2 separate regions of the Homo sapiens genome follow, and region 2 is linked to region 1. The links come from fine-mapping of genetic effects on gene expression. Tissue or cell type: whole blood. Region 1 holds a variant in brackets; the other region holds the start of a gene. All regions are shown on one strand. Distances are between the middles of the regions.

Region 1 (8,108 bases):
TGAGGTCAGGGGTTCGAGACCAAACTGGCCAACATAGTGAAACCCTGTCTCTACTGAAAATACAAAAAAAAAAAAAATGAGCTGGGCATGGTGGTAGGTGCCTCTAATCCCAGCTAATTGGGAGGCTGAGACAAGATAATCACTTGAACCCGGGAGGCAGAGGTTGCAATGAGCCGAGATCGCGCCACTGCACTCCAGCCTGGGCCACAGAGTGAGACTCCGTCTCACAAAAAAAAAAAAAAAAAATTAAGAGCTACAGAGAATTTGAAATATTTTTTAAAGCTCAGTCTTTGCAAGATTTTATTTCTGACTTCATTATTAACTCAAATTTAAATAATCAATAATAAGTGAAATAATGGAACTCCAGAATTGGAAAGTTCTTATAAACCACTGTAATCTAATATTCTGCTGATAAAGCCTTCTTTTGCTATTTTGAGATAGGAGATCTTATTATCAAAGGATGAATCTACAACTCAATATTTAAAATTAAAAAAATTTTAAAATTAAGTTAAACATAGTCTTATTGAACAAAACAAACCGATGGTCTTATATACGGCTTTGAGAACAATCTGTGGGTCGTTCTACTGATTACAGAGTGCAAGTGAGTCAAAGTCAGCCTTAGAGTTAGTTGAATATATTCTACTTTGGACTAACTGACTTTCAAAGAATGCCACTGTTACCGATTGGTTGGTTTTCAAGTCAAGTTTACTGAAACAAGTTGTCAATGATCAGTTAGATATAAAACCAGTCCTGGTGGCTATTCCTGGTTATTCCTTATTACCATGCTTATAGAACAATCAGTCTTTTCCTCAGAATGAGGACATTTTTATTGTCATTATAATGTTTAAGGGATTAGGGATACAGTATATACACATTTGTTTTTATATATTGCTGATGTAATTTTGAACATTTTCCTTAAGTTTTCTAATTTTGATTACATGTGAATTTTAGTAGATTTGAGGAGATTGGCATGCTAATGTTGATTACATTTAATGAAGGGTTAAATAGGGGCCCTTTTTAAAAAGATCATTTCGTTAATCAGGTGATGAACAAAGCAGGAGTCAGGAGCCAGAATGCCATCAGGAGTACTTTGGGAAGTTGTGATTGTTTGTTTTAATTAACACTTTTTCATTGACTACTGTAAGGAAATTTGCAAAATTTCTGTAAACATACTATGTTAACATGATAGGATTTTAAAATCGATTGTCATACAATATAAAGAGTTTTTTTTTATTATTCATGGACATATTGAGAACATAAAGATTGGATACATTTAAGAATTGCAAAGAGTTTTGATAACATGGAAAGATATTTAAAGATATGTTTTCTTTTTTTTCCTTCATAGTCAATTGGTGTCAACACTGGTTTGAATATTTTCCTAATCCTCCTATCAATATTCTTAGCATGATAGAAAATGTTTTGGCATTTCATGACAAGGAACTGCTGCAACACTTCATAGATCATGATATAACCTCCCAGGTAAGAAGCATAAGGTTTTTAGAATAACATGCCTTATTTTGTAAGCTAACATTGGTTCTGGTATAAACAGTCTTTTCTTGAAGGAGTATAATAAAAAGCATACTACATGTTGTATTTTTAACAGTATTCCATTCTTTTTCTTCATTAAACTGCCTTCCTGAAAGTCTGTAAAGAAGGGTCCAAATTAAGGTAGTTATTTTCATAATTATGTATTTAATATGATTTTCATAGCTTAAATCGAATGTAAGGGAATATTACCAATGACTCCCTTTTTACTTTTCCCTAGAAAAATAATAAATTTTTCCTTATCTGTTTTAGCTATATGCATGGCCTCTTCTTGAAACTGTGTTCTCAGAAGTGCTGACAAGAGAGGAGTGGCTGAAATTGTTCGATAATATCTTTTCCAACCATCCTTCCTTCCTTCTGATGACTGTTGTAGCCTACAACATATGTTCTAGAACGCCTCTGCTCAGCTGTAATCTTAAAGATGACTTTGAGGTAACGGTCCTTGTTCTTAAGAGAAGGTTCTCAAATATCAGTTATTTCTCTCTATTTTTTTTTTAATTTTTTGAGACAGAGTCTCGCTATGTTGCCCAGGCTGGAGTGCAATGGCGCGATCTCAGCTCACTGCAACCTCCGCCTCCCAAGTTCAAGCGATTCTCCTGCCTCAGCCTCCTGAGTAGCTGGGATTACAGGTGCGCACCATCATGCCCAGCTAATTTTTGTATTTTTAGTAGAGATGGGGTTTCACCATGCTGTCAGGGTGGTCTCAAACTCCTGACCTCGTGATCCACCCACCTCGGCCTCCCAAAGTGCTGGGATTATAGGCGTGAGCCACAGTGCCAGGCCATATCAGTTATTTCAATTGAAAAATCCATTTATTTATTGAGTCCCTGTTATATGTCAGACACTGGTGCTAGGTAGTAGGAATATAAAGGATAACAAGTTAGACCACATCCCTACCTGTGTACAGTTTATAGACAATAAAGTAGGCAATTATAGCAGGCTAGTAGTCTTATAATCATAGCTTAAGAAAAGAATCATGATAATATTGGGGTTTGTGCTTTTTGCATTTTTTTTTTTTTTTTTTTTTTTTTTGGAGACAGAGTCTCGCTCTGTTGCCCAGGCTGGAGTGCAATGGCACAGTCCCGGTTCACTGCAACCTCTGCCTCCCGGGTTCAAGAGATTCTCCTGCCTCAGCCTCCCGAGTAGCTGGGATTACAGGTGCCCGCCACCACGCCCAGCTAAGTTTTTTATATTTTTAATAGAGACAGGATTTCACTAGGTTACCCAGGCTGGTCTCGAACCCCTTACCTCAGATGATCCACCTGCCTCGGCCTCCCAAAGTGCTGGGATTACAGGCATGAGCCACCACGCCCGGCTGCTTCTTGCTTTTATAAAGGATGTTTAACAGGTTATTCTGTTATTCTGTGCATAATCTTATCATGACCCATCTGGTCTTAGAGGGTCTGAATGCTTATTACACATGCAAAAGGTAACTATGAGAGTTTTGAGACTTGGCAGGAAAGTGTCTGAAAGAAAGCATTAAGATCATTATAAAAAGTAGACGCTCTTTTGGTAGACAAGATGAATTAGTTGGGTTCTTGTGTGTGTGTGTATGTGTTACTTATTTAGTGGTTACTGTCCAATTAAACTTTATTTTTACTTCATGATCCTGTGATACATTAATTTGGATCTTCCAGCAAAACAAGATAATGTGGAAACTTTTTAGATATTTTTAAAGAAGCAAGCTAATTTATTTTCAAAGGCTAATTTATAATTTATTTTGGATTTTGAAGAAAAAAAAAATCCAAGCAGAGTTTGTTCCATTGTTGAAGCATTCTTTTTCTATTGTAAGAAAAGCCTTCATTTTTTAATTTTATGTCAGAATTTCTTATGATTGTGAAACTCTTACATTTTTTAAATAAATTGTCTTTGTTGTAAAACTTGAGTAAAGAAAAGCTTTAATGAATTTGCAAAAAAATATATATTCTTAAAGATAGATACACTTTTTTTAAATTCTTGTTTTAATTCTACCTCATAATTGCTTTGTCAGGTAAATCTCGATTTAAACACCAAGTTTTCTTACAGTTTTTTTTTCACCATCGGAATAACCTGGATATAAATGTTGTGATTAGACAAGTTTATCATCTCATGGAGACCACGCCTACTGACATTCATCCAGACAGCATGCTTAATGTTTTTGTTGCACTGACAAAAGGGCAGTATCCAGTATTTAATCAATATCCAAAGTTTATTGTGGACTATCAAACACAGGAACGAGAAAGAATAAGGAATGATGAATTGGATTACTTAAGAGAGAGGTAATTATGGAATAGTTTTTCTTTTTCTGATACAATGAAATATGTTATAAACATAAGAAAGTTTTAATGAAAAATACATTTGGCTGAGCGCGGTGGCTCACGCCTATAGTCCCAGCACTTTGGGAGGCCAAGGCAGGTAGATCACAAGGTCAGGAGTTCGAGACCAGCCTGGCCAACATGGTGAAACCCCGTCTCTACTAAAGATACAAAAAATTAGCCAGGCATGGTGGCACGCCCCTGTAGTCCCAGCTACTCAGGAAGCTGAGGCAGGAGAATCACTTGAACCCAGGAGGAGGAGGTTGCAGTGAGCGGAGATCATGCCATTGCACTCCAGCCTGGGCGACAGAGTGAGACTTCATCTCAAAAAAAAAAAAATGCATTTAAATTATGAGTATTTGTGTAAAATCAGAGTTTGAAGGCTAGAAATATTAAAGATAGTTAATTCTTGCATATGGAAATAAAATAGATTATACATTAATCGGTATACATTTTGTGTTTTGATGATTCTTAGCTTTCTTCTTTGTGTTTTCATAATAATATTACCTACTTAAGGCAGACAGTTGAAGATATGCAAGCTAAAGTCGAC[C/A]AGCAAAGAGTTGAAGATGAAGCTTGGTACCAGAAACAGGAGCTGCTTCGTAAAGCTGAAGAAACAAGAAGAGAAATGCTCTTACAAGAGGAGGAGAAAATGATACAACAAAGACAGAGGTATGTGTTATCACTTTAAAAAAAAATCTGGACATATAAGTTAGTTGAATAATTTTTATGTTCTTTCATTTTTTCATTTTAGAAACAACATTATATATAGGATTACCCAGCTGTAGCATTTCTATAAAGCAACTATTAAGTTAATAAAAAGAATCTTTATATACCACTTTTCAAAAAAAATTGCTATGTAGTAAAATGTAATTCTGAAGCTATGCTGAATATAATATAGCTTTGCATGGATTAATGTTCCTTGAAGGACATTATTTAGAAACATTATTCTATAGTGGGCAGAAATGCTTTGTAATAGAATGCTAGGTACATCACCTTTAGTAGAGTATAATTTTTTTAATTGTGTTTTAAACATACCTGTGTGACCTGACAGTTGTAACATAGAATGATTATGTCATTACCCATTTAACACTTTGGAGGACAGGGGAATGAGTATTAAATGCGTATTCAAAAGTACGTTAGCTGGGTGTGGTGCCACATACCTATAGTCCCAGCTACTAGGTAGGATCACTTGAGCCCAGGAGGTCAAGGCCAGCCTGGGCAACATAGTGAGACCCTGTCTCTTAAAAAATAAAAAGAAAAAACTTAAAAATAAATACATAAAAGTATGTTAATAAGGTAAAATGTGTAAATTAAGTAAAGTAATGGGATAAACATTGAGACTAAGCCCAATAGTTGGGAAACTCACTTCTGTGTTTATTGATTCCTATTCTTAGATGGAACTTTATGTAACAGATTTATAGTGTGGGTTAAAAGGAATTACTGAACTGAGCCAGTGAGCTTTCTACTAAAATTCTTAAAGCATAAGTATACATCATCTTTGGTAACGGTGGAGCAGTTCTCGCATTCTTCTTTCAAATAAAGGATATCAATTGTATTGAAATGATCAGCATGGCAGACCTGTTATGAAAAAACTAAATCATATTAGGAATTGCTGTATTTGTTCCACTTGATGTATTTTGTATTTAAGGCTAGCTGCTGTGAAAAGAGAGCTGAAAGTAAAGGAAATGCACTTACAAGATGCTGCAAGAAGGCGTTTTCTGAAGCTTCAGCAAGATCAACAGGAAATGGAACTAAGAAGACTGGATGATGAAATTGGGAGAAAGGTTTATTATTCTTAACTTAGTTCTCATACATCATCTCCATTTACTCTCACTTAAATGTAATGAACACCTTCAAATTAAATAATATTCTTAGAGTCCACCATGAATACTAAATAGCCGCTTTAATTTTATTTACTTTTCCCCTCAGCTTTCTCATTCTCTTTTGTATTTCATGAATGGCTAAATATTTAAGAAATGCCAGGAAAATTAGTCAAGTGTCCTTGGTGACTATTTCTCTAAAACTAGAAATATCAGTATCAGTTAGCCATTAAGTTATTTTTTCTTTTCTTTTCTTTTTTTTTTTTTTTTGAGACAGAGTCTTGCTCTGTTGCCCAGGCTGGAGTGCAGTGGCGTGACCTCAGCTCAGTGCAACCTCCGCCTCCCGGGTTCAAGTGATTCTCCTGCCTCAGCCTCCCAAGTAGCTGGGATTACAGGTGCACGCCACCACACCCAGCTAATTTTTGTATTTTTCTTAGAGACGGGATTTCATCATGTTGGCTAGGCTGATCTCAAACTCGTGACCTCAGGTGATCTGCCCACCTTGGCCTCCCAAAGTGCTGGGGTTACAGGCGTGAGCCACCAAGCCCGGCAGTTAATTTTTAATTAGGGGACATATTCTTTTTTCATATAAAAATTATCTGTGGCCAGTATAAAAATAATTTCCAGTACAAAACATACAGAATTAAAAATTGACCTTCTCCATTAGTTCTCATGTCATCCCCAGAGAAACACTATTAAAAAATGGTTAATTGGCTGGGTGCGGTGGCTCATGCCCGTAATCCCAGCACTTTGGGAGGCCGAGGCAGGCAGATCACCTGAGGTCAGGAGTTCGGAACCAGCCTGGCCAACATGGTGAAACCCTGTCTCTACTAAAAATACAAGAATTAGCTGGGCATGGTGGCAGGCGCTTGTAATCCCAGCTACGCAGGAGGCTGAGGCAGGAGAATTGCTTGACCCTGGGAGGTGGATGCTGCAGTGAGCCGAGATCATGCCACTGCACTCCAGCCTGAGCGACAGAGTGAGACTCAGTCTCAAAAAAAAAAAAAAAAAAAAAAAGGTTAATTACATAGACTTTCAGGTATGTTCTATAGATAGAGGAGTAATTATAGTCATGTTTTCCTATATTTATACAAAAATGGGATTATTCTCATTATACATTGTTTTTGTAACCTGCTTTTTAAAATTTCATATGCTGAATATCTTTTCATATTTGTTATATGTGTATCTATTTCTCTTTTTGTGGTTGTATAATATTCCATTGAATTAATAGCTTATTTAATCCTTTGCTATTGGACATTTCGGTTATTTGCAGTGTTTTGCAAATTACAAAACCATGCTACATTGTAAAAGTCTTTGAGTACTTGCACACATACTTTTGTTGAGTAACTTCTAAATTATGACAAATTGTTCTCTAAAAATGAAACAGTTTCAGCTGTTTTAAGTCTGTAAGAGTACCCACTCCCTAGTATAGTCAATTGTACTGCATCAGTCTTAATATTTGCCAAGCAGATAGATGACAAATCGTCTATTTTAATTTGCCTTTTTTTATTGTTAGTGAGGTTAAGTATCTTTTCTGTTACTTATCTTCCATGTGTAGAATTACACATTACATATTTGTATCATTTGTCCATCTTTTTGTCAAGTTAGACTTAACTTTCTGTCAGGTTAGCTTACTTATTTCCAAAAGGCAAGTCAATTGTCCCAACACCATTTGTTGACTATTATCCAAGTCATTTGCCAACTGATGGTTTTTACATATTAAATTCTCTTACATATTTGATCTCCTTCCTCGCTTTTTCTATTCCTAAGCCAGTACCACACTGTTTGAATGACAGTAGCTTTGAAGTGTTTTACCAACTAGGCCTAGTTCTCACTCATTAGTCTTCCTTTTCAGAGTTTTCCTCAGTATTCTCAAATGTTTATCATTCCAAGTAGACTCTAAGAATTGTTTCACTTTTGGAATTCTCACCTCTCCCAATCCTATTGGAATTTTTATTAGGATTACACTGACTTTATGCACTAATTTAGAGTTTCAAGCCTAGTTTTGATAAAATACTAAGTATTTTTTAAGTCTTTTTTTTTTTTTTTTTTTTTTTTTTTTGAGACAGGGTCTCATTCTGTCACCTGGGCTGGAGTACAGTGGTGCGATCCCGGCTCACTGCAACCTCCACCTCCCGGATTCAAGCAATTCTCATGCCTCAGCCTCCTGAGCAGATGGGATTACAGGTGCCTGCCACAACACCCATCTAATTTTTGTATTTTTAGTAGAGACAGGGTTTCACCATGTTGGTCAGGCTGATCTTCAACTCCTGACTTCAAGTGGTCTGCCCACCTTGGCCTCCCAAAGTGCTGGGATTACAGGCACCTGGCCTAAGTCTTTCAAAGTATTTTTAATTCAATAGTATTAGAAATCTATCATCTCTTTATAGCATGATACTTCTTGTTTTGTTTAAAGCTTGTTAATTTTAAATTGGTTTTCAAAATCCAA
Region 2 (8,108 bases), 56 kb before region 1:
CACACGTTCATACTAAGACTTGCATAAGAACATTCACAGCAGTGTTATTCGGAATAGCCAAAAACTGCAAACAACTCCAGTGTTCATCACCAGGTGGATCAGATGGATGGATAAACAAATTGTTGTATATTGGGCCAGGCATGGTGGCACACACCTGTAATCCCAGCACTTTGGGAGGCTGAGGTTGGTGGATAGCTTGAGCTCAGGAGTTTAAGACCAGCCTGGGCAACACAGTGAGACCCTGTCTCTACAAAAAATACAAAAGATTAGGCAGGTGTGACACCTGTAGTCCCAGCTACTCAGGAGGCTGAGGTGGGAGGATCCCTTGAGCCTGGGAGGTCAAGGTTGCAGTGAGTCATGGTCATGCCACTGCACTCGTGTCTGGGCAACAGAATGAGACCCTGTCTCAAAAAAAAAATTGTGGTATATTGATGTATTAGTCCATTTTCACTTTGCTTTAAAGACATACCCAAGAGTTGGTAATTTACAAAGAAAAGAGGTTTATTTGACTCACAGTTCCACAGGGCTGGAGAGGCCTCAGGAAACTTATAATCATGGTGGAAGGGGAACAGGTACATCTTACATGGCAGCAGGCAAGAGAGAGTGTTACGTGAAGGGGATAGAGCCCCTTATAAAACCATCAGATCTTGTGAGAACTCACTCACTATCATGAGAACAGCATGGGGGAAGCTGCCCCTCTGATCCATCCAATCACCTCCCACCTGGTCCCACCCTTGACATGTGGGGATTACAATTCGTGATGAGATTTGGGTGGGGACAAAAACCCAAACCATATCAATTGATGCCATAAAAAAGAATAACTACTGATACATACAAAAACACAATTGAATCTCAAAATAATCTCAAATTTATGATGAATGAAAGAAACCAGACCAACAAAAAAAAAGGAAAGACACCAAAGTACAATACATACACGTAGTCTATGAATCCATTTATATAAATTTCTAGAAAATGTTAACTAAAGAAAGGAAAACAGATCGGTGGTTGCTCATGGGCAAAGTGGGGTGGGAGTCGAAAGGTTACAAAGAGAGATGAGGAAACTTTTAGGGATGATGGATGTTTTCATTATCTTGATTATAGTGATGGTTTCATGGGGGGGTTAGCTACCTAAAAACTTATAAAACTGTACACTTTAAATATGTAAAGTTTATTGAATGTCAATTATTTCTCAGTAAAACTGTTTATATGTATATACTTGGAACACTAATTGGTAGTCCCTTCTGCTCTAGTTCCTTTCTGAATCATTAGTCACTCAATAACAGGTACATATGTGTATATATAATATATATATGTATATATGTACATACTGTTTATATATGTACATACTATTTATATAGTACATACTATTTATATGTACATAAATATATATAAAGGTACATATTATTTGTGTGTGTATGTATTTATATATATACACACATAAATATATATAGGCTAGGTGCAGTGGCTCACACTTGTATTCCCAGCACTTTGGGAGGCCGAGGTGGGTGGATCACTTGAGGTCAGGATTTCGAGACCAGCCTGGCCAACATGGTGAAACCCCATCTCTACTAAAAAAAAAAAAAAAAATACAAAAATTAGCTGGGCGTGGTGGCGCAAGCATGTAATCCCAGTTACTTGGGAGACTGAGGCAGGAGAATCACTTGAACCTGGGAGGCAGAGGTTGCAGTGAGCTGAGATCACGCCACTGCACTCCAGCCTGGGCAACAGAGCAAGACTCCATCTCAAACAAACAAACAAACAAATGTATAAAGGTCCATACTGTGTACCTTTATAAATACATATGAAAGTACATATAAATAGTATACCTTTACACTATACAAAGGTATACTGTATACTAAAGGTATATTTATATATAAATAGGTATATAGTATACCTTTATATATAAATAGGTATGTAGTATACCTTTATATATAAAGGTATAAAGTATAGGTATATAGTATACCATATATATAATAGGTATATAGGTATACTTATACTATATACTTTTATACATATAGATACCTTTATATATGTATATATATTTTATATATATAACATATGTGTGTGTGTATGTATATATATATATATATATATATATATATATATATATATATATATATAAAAATAGTATGTACCTGTTACTGAGTGACTAATGATTCAGAAAGGAACTAGAACATAAGGGACTACCAATTAGTGTTGTAAGTGTATACATGTGTGTGTGTATATCCATATATATACATTTGGATATCCAAATATATATGTATATATATTTATCTGTACATTATTTATCTGTATATATACAGATAGATACATATAAATAGTATGTACCTGTTATTGAGTGACTAATAATTCAGAAAGGAACTAGATCACAAGAGACTACCAATTAGTGTTGTAAAAACTGGGAGATCTAATGAGTAGAACTTTAGCAGCTGTGGGTACACATCTCTTCAGCCTGACCTTCAAATTGTGCCCCCTAAATCAAAAGATAAGTACAAAGTGGGAGTCCAGAAGATCTAACATATAAACCTCTTTATCACATATCTGAGATTGAATAGGATGGCCACATGGGCTGAGACAGCCCAAACTAGCTTAGCTGCAGACAGGTTAAGCTAGAGAAGTTAAGAAAATCATTCAGCAGATTCATCTTTGCTTCCGATAAAAAAAGGTTGTTTGGTTAATGGTGTGGGATAGAAATGTTGTGAAATAATCTGTTTCAGGTTAGGCACTGTATCTTAAATTTAAGATTCTAAGTTTCCTAAATAATAATGCAAACATTGATACATGTAGTTTATCTCCATCTCAAAACCAATAAATAAAAATAAGAGCTGCAGTTGCTTCCTCTGCAATAGGTCATTACAAGTTGTCTGATCTCTCAGAGCCACCCCTTGATAACAACATAAAGTTTAAAAACCTGCATTAGTATTTTTTTTGAGAATTTGCTTTTCTGATCAAGAGTTTGAACTTTTCAAATACCACGACCATATAATTTTTTTAACATCATTTTTCTGTTGTAGAACAACATAGAGACTAGGAATGGAAAGATTTAAGGTTTCCTTGTCTGCAAAAGTGGATAATATTAGTACTTACCTGTAACAGGTTGATTGGTGGCCCCCCAAAATATATGTCAACATACTAATCCCAAAATCCGTGACTGTTACCTTACTTGGAAAAAGGGTCTTTGCAGATGTAATCAAGTTAAGGATTTTGAGATGAAAAGATCATCCTGTATTCCTGTATTATTCATATGGACCCAATGACAAGTTTCCTTATAAGAGAAAAACAGAGGGAGATTTGAAACAGACAGAAGAGGAAAAGATACATCCAGGAGGAGAAAGACGTGTGAAGATGGAAGCGGAGAATGGAGCGATGCGATCACAAGCAGAGAACGCCAGCAACTCCCAGAAACTGGAATAGACAAGTAAGGGAATCTTGCTTAGAGCCTGAAAGGAGGCTGCAGACACTTTGATTTCCGATGTATGGCCTCAAGAACTTCCCAAGAATACATTTCTGTTTTTTTATGTCACCAAGTTTGTGGTAATTTGTGAGGGCAGCCTCAGGAAATTAATGCACAACCTCATAGAGCACTAAAAATGGAGATAATTAGTACTACCTAACTTGTAAATTTGCTACGAGGATTAATTGAGTTGATATATTCGGTATAGTAGAAAAGTGCCCCATACCTAGTAAGCGCTCCGGAGGCACTAAGTGAATTTTTATCAAAGGAACGCTAAAGTCGAGGCAGCCAGTTGTTGATATTATTGCTTTTCTGGACCATGATTGGTGGACTGGACATCATAATGCTGGAAGGCCTGTCAGATTACGAAACTGAAGAAACGAAACAAAACCATGAGGATGGTGAAAAGGTCAGGAAGAATGAACTATTTCATCTGTAAGTTTCATTTGAGCCCGAACGTTCTATGAAAGGAACCCATCAGTTCTCAATGTATTTGTCTCCTTGCTTCTCTGCACTTGTTTCCTTGCTTCTCTTAGTTATTTCTATACAATTCCTTAATCCCTAAAAGCAATTTAGAACGGAATGCAGGGACCACAGGAGAAAATGAGTTTTATTGCCTCTGATGGGAGCCTAAAACCCCACGAGGCTCCCAAAGGGCGGAATTCCCAAGCCAATTCCTCGCGTCTATGATCCACCTGCAAAAAACTACGATTCCCAGAAGGCTTTGGGTCCGGGGGCGGGAAGACTGAGCTCAGAAAGAGGTGGACTCTAAGAGAAGGTCTTTGGTCGATTACATTGTCCAGAGAGGGAGTGGCCGCTTGGGCGGATTTTGGGAGGGATCAGCCTTCCAATTGGTTGTTATTAGAAAGGGGGTTGGTACGGCCTGCTGGTGCTGGACCTAGGCCGCCGCGGCCGGAGCTCAAATTTCCCGGGCCGGGAGCGCTGGGCCTGCCGGGAAGGCGCTGGGACGGTTACCCAGCGGGCCGCCGGCGGTCGTGGGCAAGCTTCGCCATGCAGAGCACTGACCTAGGCAACAAGGAGAGCGGCAAGATATGGCACCGCAAGCCGTCCCCGGCCACGCGGGACGGGTAAAGGCCGTGGCGGGAGGGCGCGGGCTGTGGAGGGGATGGAGACCGGCGAGGAGGGGACGCCGGGCGTCAGGCAGCGTTCCGGGTTCTGGCTCTGACCTTGCCCCGCATCCCTGGGTTGGATGACCTGCGGTGGAACAGATGGCTCCGGACGCCAGGGTCCGCAGAGATCCCCTTCTGAGTTCTGGGAGCGGGGGTCTGGTCCGGGACAGCGCGGAGCAGGAGGAGGCCGGTGGTTCTCAGACCTGGGAACTTGCGGCTTTTGCTGTGTACCGGGACTCTCCTGCTTTTATGATCACGGTATCCCGCTAGTGTCCCTGGCACGTAGTAGGTGCTCAGTGAGTATTTAACAGTTGCAGCTGGAGCAGAACTCCAGGAGGAGATGCGGGGTGGAAGAGCAGGACAATTCTGCCTCTTCCAAAGGCTGCAGTTTATCCATCCTTAAATCCTTGGATGTGTTTAGACGCACAAGCATTCATCAACTATTTGTTGAGCTCCTACTGTGTGCCAAGCACGCCTCTAAGCGCTGGGGACGGCGATGGAACAAAACACACTTCCGGTTCTCTGGAGTTTACATATCGGCGTGTATGTAGGGGCTGGGGCGTTCATTATGCATTGCTGGGGGGCTTCTAGTACGGCCAGCGCTGCTTTTCATTCTGTTCCCAGTTACCTGTCCTGTTTGAGGCTCAGCCTGTCTTGTTTCCCTGGAAGCCTTTGCTACAAAGCGGTGCCATTTGGATTTCGATTTCTGCACGCAGAGTGATCTTATTGCTCCTAATTCCCTAGGATTTCACGGAAATTGCTTGAGTTCCTGTTTCAGTGTGTTTCTTGTTCTAGCAGTGATTTTTCTTTTCTTTGAGACGGAGTCTTGCTCTGTCGCCTGGGCTGGGGTGCAGTGGCGCGACCTCGGCTCACTGCATCCTCCACCTCCCGAGTTAAAGCGATTCTCTTGCCTCAGCCTCCTAAGTAGCTGGGATTACTGGCGCGCGCCACTACGCCCGGCTAATTTTTGTATTTTTAGTAGAGACGGGGTTTCACCATGTTGGCCAGGCTGGTCTTGAACTCCTGGCCTCAGGTGATCCGCCTGTCTCAGTCTCCCAACGTGCAGGGATTACAGGCCTGAGCCACCGCGCCCGGCCTCTAGTGATTTTTCTATTGATCCTTTGGTTGCTTCTTGACAAATCAGAATTTTTTTTTTCTCTTGAGACAGAGTCTTGCTCTGTTGCCCAGGGTCGGATGCAGTGGCGCGATCTCGGCTCACTGCAACCTCCGCCTCCCGGGTTCAAGCGATTCTCCTGCCGCAGCCTCCTGAGTAGCTGGGATTACAGGCGCACCACTCCCGGCTAATTTTTTGTATTTTTAGTAGAGACGGACCGTGTTAGCCAGGATGGTCTTGATCTCCTGATGTCGTGATCCACCCACCTTGGCCTCCCGAAGTACTGGGATTACAGGCGTAAGCCACCGCGCCTGGCCGACAAATCAGTTTTAAGTGCCTACTCTGTATATCCAAAGTGCGATGCGAGACGTTTTACCAGCAGCTTGTTTGGTTCCTGGTTACTGTCAGGCCTCTTTATCAATGCCGCTGCCTCAACTACATTGAATAAAAAATTTTCTCTAAAGTGGGGATTCCTCAAGTTTTTCATTTTCAAATTCTGAGTTTGTGTGAATACCACTCCCACCTCTGGTATTCTCTAAACATTCTAAAAGTTATAGCCCACTCGCCTTCTCTTTCTTGATGATACAAAATATCTAGATATATGTGCAAGATTCAAAAAGTGAAAGAAATGGGTTGATTATCCAAATGTCTTGTTTGCTTCTTCCACTAAAGCATAGCTTATCTTTGTGTTCGTTAAAACCCATTGTTCATGCTGTTTAGACGGGCAGAGAGCACTGACTTGGAGTCAGATGTATTTTGTTGAAGTAAATGTCCGTTTACCAACTCTGTGACCTTGGGGAAGTTAATCACTAAGGCTGTCAGTGGGGAGAATCAGATTTACCAGACAGGTTGTCTTACACATTTGGTGCTCAGTAAATATTTGATATTCTTCTTGTGTTTGAGAACTGAGGAACTCTGTCAGGCAATCTGTGAGAATCTGAAAGGAAGTTGCTCTAAAATAAATTTTTTACGTGTGATTTATATGAAAAATCGGAGGGGCAGAATGTCACTATTGTGATTACATCTACATGGTAGGATTATAATTGAGTATTTGTTTCTTAGTGTATTTCTATATTTTTCATATTTTGAACAATGATTGTGTAATTTTGTAGCCAGAACATGTAATAAGTGTTCTAGAAAATAAGACTGGAGGAAAAAGTTGTTTGCTCTGAGTTTAGTTGCCATGAAACATTTTGATATTGCTTGTCATTTCTGTATGTTTATTTTTGTGTTTTTAATTCCTTGGGGACTAGATAAAAATAAGCATTGTTAAGAATTTTGCTATTTCCTTTAGTGAGTCTAAAAAGCCTTATGTTTAGATACACATGGAGAAAATGTTTAATCCACTTAATTCAATTTAGTATACTTTAATGAAATTATAATGAAGATAGATGTTTCTAATATAAAATCCAAAAACTAGGCAAGGTGCAGTGGCTCACGCCTGTAATTCCAGCACTTTGGGAGGCCAAGGTGGGAGGATCACGAGGTCAAAAGTTTGAGACCAGCCTGGCCAACATGGTGAAACCTTGTCTCTACTAAAAATACAAAAAATTAGCTGGGCATGGTAGCGTGCACCTGTAATCCCAGCTACTCAGGAGGCTGAGGCAGGAGAATCACTTGAACCCAGGAGGTGGAGATTGCAGTGAGCCGAGATTGCACCACTGCACTCTAGCCTGGGTGACAGAGCGAGACTCCATCTCAAAAAAAAAAATAAAACAAAATCCAAAAATTTATGAAAAATCAATTAAGATAAAATTTTCATGATTAAAAACTATTGTTGCAATAAAGAATGGGATTATTCTGATCTTTGTGACGAGAATATACGCACATATATTATTTTAAGGAGTTATTTTGTGCTGTAAGTTAATTTTATAAATTTTCTTTCAACAGATACAGGGTATATAATCCTTCTCTCAAAAAGGGTAACTTTAAACACATGTATTCTTGTCTTTCCTGTTATGAAAATAGTATGTAATCATTAAATAACATGTCTAAAAGATAGAAAAGTAGAAAGGGGAAAAAAATTAACCATATTGCTATTACCTGCAGACAGCTGCTGTTAATATTTAGCTGTATTCATCTTTTTTTCCCTATACGTATTTTTCTTTTCCTTTGGAGACAGGGTCTTACAGTGTCACCCAGGCAGGAGTGCGGTGGCATGATCATGGCTCACTGAAGCCTTGACCTCCCCAGGCTCTAGTGATAATGCCACCTCAGACTCCTGAGTAACTGGGATCACAGGCACATGCACCATGCCTGGCTAATTTTTTGAAATTTTTCTGGAGACGTGTTTGGTTTTGATTTTTCTTCTTTATTTTTTCTTTTAATTGTGTGTATGTGTGTGTGTGTGTGTGTGTGTGTGTGTATCAGTGTTTAAAACTTCAGGTTAGAATATTTTCGTTTTCATTTA

The links. PIP is the estimated chance that this variant, and not a neighbour inherited with it, causes the effect.
Region 2: TBC1D31 starts here. The variant in region 1 is fine-mapped to the expression of TBC1D31 in whole blood (TOPMed, PIP above 0.99). The same link has a PIP of 0.9 or more in blood mononuclear cells.

The regions. Positions count from the first base shown.
Region 1 is chr8:123,124,711-123,132,818 of GRCh38, forward strand. TBC1D31 (TBC1 domain family member 31) reads left to right here. Exons shown (of 22, transcript NM_145647.4): 12 at 1,346-1,479; 13 at 1,798-1,977; 14 at 3,571-3,803; 15 at 4,356-4,508; 16 at 5,488-5,623. Among named protein-coding and RNA genes, the nearest start is that of TRM-CAT1-1, 29 kb to the right of the region's middle. The variant C/A (reference allele first, on the strand shown) is at 4,390.
Region 2 is chr8:123,068,305-123,076,412 of GRCh38, forward strand. It overlaps TBC1D31 (TBC1 domain family member 31), which reads left to right and starts at 4,403. Exons shown (of 22, transcript NM_145647.4): 1 at 4,403-4,542. The coding sequence starts at 4,466. RefSeq lists a silencer at 4,306-4,455.